2 linked regions of the Homo sapiens genome follow. The protein of the gene in region 1 binds, or shares a complex with, the protein of each later gene. Each region holds a gene or a part of one and is shown in the gene's direction. Other genes may lie near its edges.

Region 1 (3,753 bases):
GGAGTTTAAAAAAGTCAAAGGCACCATTCCCATCAAGCAATTTGCTTTTTATTCTCATAGGACACCCATCCTGTTTGAAATTTTGTCCTGAATTAACAACAAATGTAAAGGCCTTAAGGTGGCAGTGCATCGAATGCAAGACATGCAGTGCCTGTAGAGTCCAAGGCAGAAATGCTGTAAGTATGGCTCCCGTAATCCGCCTCCAGGTAACTCGCTAATTTCCAGTGTTAAGGTGTTTTCATTTTTATAGAGTATGGCTACTTTCTTTCTAAAGCTTTAAATACACATGATGTCAAACTGCAACCAGGATCTTGGTGCACTTTCCTTATATTGTATTAATGTTAATCCAGTAACAAAAGAATTTTTGGCCTTTTACAGTTGGTTTCAGTCTCAATTAGTCTCTAATATGTTATATTACAGGATAATATGCTTTTTTGTGATTCCTGTGATAGAGGATTTCATATGGAATGCTGTGACCCACCACTTTCCAGAATGCCAAAAGGTGAACTTCTAAACTGTACTAAAAATGTATTTTATTACATATTGGTTAGCTTTGTCCTGAGGTCTGACAGCTCAGAGGTATACAGGTTCTTTAAGCATTTTTTTCATCCCTCCCACCTTCCCTATACTTCTGAGTTTAGCACAGGTTGTGAATAGAGGAGTATAAAAGCATAGAAAAAAATACATATATATATGTGTATATATATACATATATATAAAATAAAGGCTCTAATTCAGACCCAGGGATGAAAAGACCATCTCTCTCTCCAAACCATTCCCCTATTAGAATAAGATTAGATTATTAAGGTCAAAAGTTTAGAACACTTTCCATATTATTCAGCACAGTGTTAAGAGCTTAACAAATTTTATATTTTTGAGGATGATAGTGACTCCAAAGTCCTACAACAGGAAGCCATCACCATTTTCTTGGCCATTAGTTGATATTTTGAACACGAGCATCTGAATGATCTTATAGCTGATTGTGTCTGATGGAATGTGGATTTTCTTCTGTTTATTGTGTAAATCAGCTAAGCTCAGCCTTTTCCCCTCATTTTGCAATATATTAAACATTTAAAAATAACTTTGCCTTTTTATTATAAAATCCATAATTTACATTGTGGAAGATTTAAAAAGTACAGATAGACAAAAAAGGAATAAAAATAAAAATGAATTGGAAATTTCCTTCTCTGCCTTCACATACCCTTTGAAGGGAAATGGAACATTCTGTACATGTTTTTGTAATGTACTTTTTCCTCCCTCTTAATAGATTATAAGCATCCCCTACATCATTAAATATTCTCCTAAACATAGTTTTTAATAAGTATGTAGAACTCCATAGTATAGAGCAGGGATTACAAACCTGGCAACTATGGGTCACAGATATGCTTTGTTGGTACAATATTTTTACAAGTTTGAATCTGAGTCCTCTGGGTGGTGCGTGTGTGCTCCAGTTTGCCACAATCTCACTACTCCCTGCTGTCTTACGTTCCAATTTGCTTCAGTCACATACATTATACAATCTAGGTCCTTCCTGGAGGTATTTGATTTTCCAACCCTCTATATAAATGAACTCTAATTTATTTAACCAGTCCCTTAGGGTGGATATTACAAATGTTTCCAATTTTTTCCATCCACAATTATTTCCTTGAAATAAATTCCTAGAGGAGGAACTGTTGGATCAAAGGCTAGATACATGAAAGGCTGTATCAGTTTTCAGGCTGTCCAGCAGTATAGAAGGATACCTATTTTCCTGTATTGTGACCAGTACTCACCGTTACTATATCTCCTTGAGTCTAAGACACATTTTTTTAATGTTTTAATATTTTTGAAGTCAGATGCATCATACAGTATCTTAGATTTGATTAGAGTATTATTATTTTTAAAATTTTACCAGTTTGATAATAGAAATATGTCTGATTATTTCTTTTTAAGTAGTCAGATTGAACATTTCTTGTGTTTTATTCTTGGCTGTTTGTATATCATCTTTTCTAAAGTACCTCTTTTTATCCATTAATCATTTTTCTCTTGGGATTTTTACCTTTTTCTTCCTGATTTGCAGAAGCTCTTTTTTTGTGTGTAGTCATATTCATGAATCTTTTTATTTATGGCTTCAGTTTTAAATGTCAGTCATGCTTAGATTATATAAATATCCACATATCTTTCCTGGTACTTATAACATTTTATTTTTTCATATTACAATATTCATCTGTCTAGAATTTATTCTTGTAAAGGATAGGAAATAATTCCTCTTCCAGATAGATAGCTATTTGTTCTATCATGCTTATTGAATCATTTCATCCTTTCTCCACTGATTTAAAATATGACCTTTTGATATGCTAAACTTTTCTGTAGGCTTTGGTTGTTCTGGTCTTTCCATTCTTATCCATTGACCTATTTCTCTATGCTAGATGTATAGTTTGAATCATTGTAGTTCTGCAGTACTCAAAACTTTTATTTAAATTTTAAAATTATATTTTATACTGATAATTTTTTTTTAGTGTTGGAACTTTCCAGAAAGAGATGATAAGACAATTTTTTTTTCTTCTAGAAATTCCAAAAATGGACTGATTTGAAAATGTCTCCCTCAAATCAAAAGATATAATATCTGACAGGGGCGAGTTTTCATGTGTGTTTATGTGTTGGTGAGAGGCTTAATGACATGTTGGGAACAGCTTCATGGAAGGATTCTGAGAGAGGGGCCACCTCTGCCCTCACCACCTTCACTCCAGGGAAATTGACCTTAGTGATGGCTTCCTAAGGAAAATGACAAAGGGAATGACGCATTTTTTGGAGTAAAGTTCAGCATACAGGCATCCTTGAGCAGCTTATTACAGCTACAACTTATATTTAATATCTTCTCTTAAAATGAAACATTAAAATATTTTTCTCATATATATATTAATTCAGGGATGTGGATTTGCCAAGTCTGCAGACCAAAGAAAAAGGGAAGAAAACTACTTCATGAGAAAGCTGCACAAATAAAACGACGATATGCAAAACCCATTGGACGACCGAAAAATAAATTAAAGCAACGATTGTTGTAGGTTGAGATCTTATCAAAAGAAATCATTTATGTTTTGCTTTAAAATATAGGTGATTGTTATTCTCTCAGATTCCTTTAGGGGTTTTTTGGCATCATTTTTTCAAACTCAAGGGTTGAAAAATACTTTTCCTTTTGCATAAGCTGTGGAAATTTTTTGAAAATAACATTTTTAATTACCATTGGCATTTTGGGGTCTTCTGTTGGCAGTAGCTGTGATACTAAGTGACATTTTTCAAGCAGCAGGATGGAAGCAGAATGTAAGAATTGGAAACAGTCATTCAGCCTACTTTATTACTGGCTGAGCATTAGAGCTTAATTATGTAAATATTTTCATAGGAATTTTAAAACGAGAGGGATTTGTCCATGTCTATAGCAAATCTCTTTTGTCACTCCAGATAACATTTTAGAAAAATACCTCTCTCTTCTGATAGTAATGTAGCATTACCACTTTTTAAGATCTCTTTTATGAAATAGGAGCTTCTGAAAAACCTGCAGATGACCACTTACCTCTGAAGAGTTAGACAGAACTATTTGACAACTGCACTAGTGCAGACATATATATAAAATAATATATTCGCAGTGGCCTGGAAATCTACTATGATAACCCCATTTTCACTATCTTGTTGCTGTATAATTGCCATTAAAGCCCAGTAGAGCATTTAGCAGGAGTTAGTTGGAAAAGCAGAGAAAAGATAAGAGGTGAAATGAAT
Region 2 (3,753 bases), on another chromosome or scaffold:
CTGTAATAATCTGTTTACTTTTCTGTCTTTTGAGTTAGACAGGGCTCCTTGAGGGCAGGGATCATGTGTGTTTGATTTCTTCTTTCATTCAACTAATACTTATTGAGTGGTTACTTAGGAGCTAAGCACTGCTCCAGGAACTGGGGATGCAGCAGTGAACAAGACAAACAAAAATTCTTCCCCTCATGGAGCTTATATTCTAGTGGAAGGAAGGAAACAATAAACATAGTAGTAGGTAAATTATGTAGCATGGTATAAGATGATGAATGTTAAAGGGAAAAATAAAGCAGAATGAAAGGTAGATTGCTGGTGGAGGAAAAGGATTTGCAATTTTAGATAAAGTGGTCAGAGAAGGTCTCACTGAGAAGTGTTGTTCACTTGAAGAAATGAAAGACTCAAAGGAAGTGAAGGAGCAAGCCATGTGGATGCCTGAGGGGCAAGTTGTTCAGACAGAGGGAAAAGCCAGTCCTCTTGGTGGATGCTTGATCATATGGGAGGATGAATGGGTGCATAAGGGCATCCAACTCATAGTCTCCTGGCCTTCTCTCCTTAGGCCTGTCCCCTCAGTTCCCAGGTGCCATGAGGAAGCCTCGTCGGAAGTCCCGGCAGAATGCCGAGGGCCGGCGTTCCCCGTCCCCCTACAGTCTCAAGTGCTCACCCACCCGGGAGACCCTGACATATGCCCAGGCCCAGCGGATTGTCGAGGTAGACATTGATGGACGCCTGCATCGTATCAGCATCTATGACCCACTCAAAATCATTACTGAAGATGAGCTAACTGCCCAGGATATCACCGAATGCAATAGTAACAAGGAAAACAGTGAACAGCCTCAGTTCCCTGGCAAGTCCAAGAAACCCTCATCCAAGGGCAAAAAGAAGGAATCCTGCTCCAAGCATGCATCTGGTACTTCCTTCCACCTCCCACAGCCCAGCTTCCGTATGGTGGACTCAGGCATCCAGCCAGAAGCACCCCCGCTGCCTGCTGCCTACTACCGCTACATTGAGAAGCCACCTGAAGACCTGGATGCAGAGGTAGAGTATGACATGGATGAGGAGGACCTTGCCTGGCTGGACATGGTGAATGAAAAACGGCGAGTAGATGGGCACAGTTTGGTGTCTGCAGATACCTTTGAGCTGCTGGTAGACCGGCTTGAGAAAGAGTCATACTTGGAGAGTCGCAGCAGTGGGGCCCAACAGTCACTCATCGATGAAGACGCTTTCTGCTGTGTGTGCCTGGATGATGAATGTCACAATAGCAATGTTATTCTCTTCTGTGACATCTGCAACCTGGCTGTACACCAGGAGTGCTATGGCGTCCCATACATCCCTGAGGGCCAGTGGCTATGCCGCTGCTGCCTGCAGTCTCCCTCCCGGCCTGTGGATTGCATCCTTTGCCCCAATAAGGGTGGCGCCTTCAAACAGACCAGTGATGGGCACTGGGCCCATGTGGTGTGTGCCATCTGGATCCCTGAAGTCTGCTTTGCTAACACCGTGTTCTTGGAACCTATTGAGGGCATTGACAATATCCCGCCTGCCCGCTGGAAACTAACCTGCTATATCTGCAAGCAGAAAGGGCTAGGTGCAGCCATCCAGTGCCATAAGGTGAACTGCTACACAGCATTCCATGTGACATGTGCACAGCGGGCTGGGCTCTTCATGAAGATTGAGCCCATGCGCGAAACCAGCCTCAATGGCACCATCTTTACAGTGCGCAAGACTGCCTACTGTGAGGCCCACTCGCCACCAGGTGCGGCCACTGCTAGGAGGAAGGGCGACTCCCCTAGAAGCATCAGTGAGACTGGCGATGAGGAAGGGCTGAAGGAGGGTGATGGAGAGGAGGAAGAAGAGGAAGAGGTGGAGGAAGAAGAGCAGGAAGCTCAAGGCGGGGTGAGTGGCTCCCTCAAGGGAGTGCCCAAGAAAAGCAAGATGAGTTTGAAGCAGAAGATCAAGAAGGAGCCAGAGGAAGCAGGCCAAGACACACCCTCCACTCTCCCCATGCTTGCTGTCCCACAGATACCCTCTTACAGGTAAGCATGCCCAGAAGGGCTCCTTAGGGACTCATGGTTTCTTCTTGGGTTGGTGTTGGCCCTGTGCCAGGCCTTCGCTAAACACAGTTGGACACTATATCCTCCTCCCCGAATTTAAACTCTTCCTTTTGACCCCAGGCTCACCTGGCCTGGTTTGTGGTTTTGATTTTGCCCTCAGAGTAATGTATTTCCTTTAGTTCAAAGTGAAATAAAACACTTAAGTTACTTAGAAACTCAGGTGATAGGATATCTAAGACAGTATTTTTCAATAGGGGCACTAAGTGACATTTTGGACAGGATAATTCTTCGTTATTAGAAGTGTCCTGTACATTTCTAGATGTTTAGTATCCCTGGTCTTTGTAAATGCCAGTCGCATCCCCTCCCCCATTGCCTGGTCTTTGTGACAAACTCAAACCCTCCTCATGCATGTTTTCAAAAACCCTTGGGGAGGGTAGAACTAATTACCCAGTGAAGAACCACTGTTTCAGAGGATCGGCATGGCCATCTGCTGTCCAGCAAGTTCTGTCCTGGGTATGAGGGGGGTGGTGGTGTGGAGAGAACATGCTATTCCTCCTCTTGAAGCTTTAGATTTAGGGATAAGAGGATCATTCAGTTCAGCTGTGTAGCTAAGCTCTGTGGACCCCCCCCCCCTCCGCCCCCGCCATTGAGTCTGTAGAGAGCCCATGGTACCTGTTTTAAAACATCAGAGAGGTACCTGGAACCATTGGAGGGATGGGAGCTTGGCAGAGAAGCAAGAGATAGGGAAGATTTCCTAGCAGAGACTCATCTCAGGGGTGGTGTTCATTAAACAGTATACACTGTTAGAGCAGGAAGGAGTCTTGGAGACTGTTCATCTGATGTAGTCCTTGCACCTTCTCCCACACCCCCAGATGAAGAAACTGCGGCCAAGGGAGGTAAAGTTGTTCACTCCTTTATTCATTCAATGATATATTTATTGAGCACTTAATACATGCCATGTCCTGTTCTAAGGGATGGAACCAGGTGGAAAGTGACAGACCCTATACCACAAGAGCTGGGGCTCATGATGCCTCTAGGTTGCATTCCTGTAGTCCGTCTCTCTTGATGAGAAGGGTAGAGAGAAAGGAGTGCTGGGGAAAGAGTTGTGTGAGAGCTATGAATAGGCAACCAGACTTGCCAGGCTGGGAAGAAGACATAAGTGTGAGATCAGAAGGGGGAGGCTCTTATTGCCAGTTATTACCCAAGTTAGAATTTCAGTGACTCTGTATGTGTTTTCTAGTCACAGAGCTGTTCTAGGTTATTCTTTTTCCTGAGGTAAGTGGGTGGATGCTTAGTTCCCATCTGTAGGGTGGTTTTACCCTGAGGCTAGAATCTTTGGTTGACATATATGTTGTTCTAGATGCCTCTTGCTGGGGCCAGCAGAGCTTGCTGGCTAAGAACCAGACAAACCTACATTTGAAACCCAATTCTGTGACTTAGTACCTTTGTGACTTTTGGCAAGTTGCTTAGCTGCTCTAAGCCTTAGTTTATTTGTAAATGAACCCACCACATAGAGTTGTTGTGAGAAATAAATGAGATAATATAAGTAAAGCACTTAGCACAGTGTCTGGCAAATAGTAAGTGCTCAATAAATGGTGACTACTGCTGCTGCTGCTATTTTATTATTGCTGTTCTTTTCCCTACCTGCACAAATGCTGTTGGGATCCTCCATGGCCAAGAGGTAGAGGGAGGGTGCTGCCTACATCTG

The links.
Region 2: KAT6B (region 1) and BRPF3 share a complex: the UniProt entries of both Homo sapiens proteins name them as parts of the MOZ/MORF complex.

Annotation. Positions count from the first base shown.
Region 1 is NC_000010.11:74,969,600-74,973,352, forward strand, and holds part of KAT6B (histone acetyltransferase KAT6B), read left to right. Parts: intron 1-60; coding exon 61-176; intron 177-420; coding exon 421-502; intron 503-2,907; coding exon 2,908-3,040; intron 3,041-3,753. UniProt on the Homo sapiens protein: Histone acetyltransferase which may be involved in both positive and negative regulation of transcription. Required for RUNX2-dependent transcriptional activation. May be involved in cerebral cortex development.
Region 2 is NC_000006.12:36,199,744-36,203,496, forward strand, and holds part of BRPF3 (bromodomain and PHD finger-containing protein 3), read left to right. Parts: intron 1-553; 5' UTR 554-579; coding exon 580-2,027; intron 2,028-3,753. UniProt on the Homo sapiens protein: Scaffold subunit of various histone acetyltransferase (HAT) complexes, such as the MOZ/MORF and HBO1 complexes, which have a histone H3 acetyltransferase activity.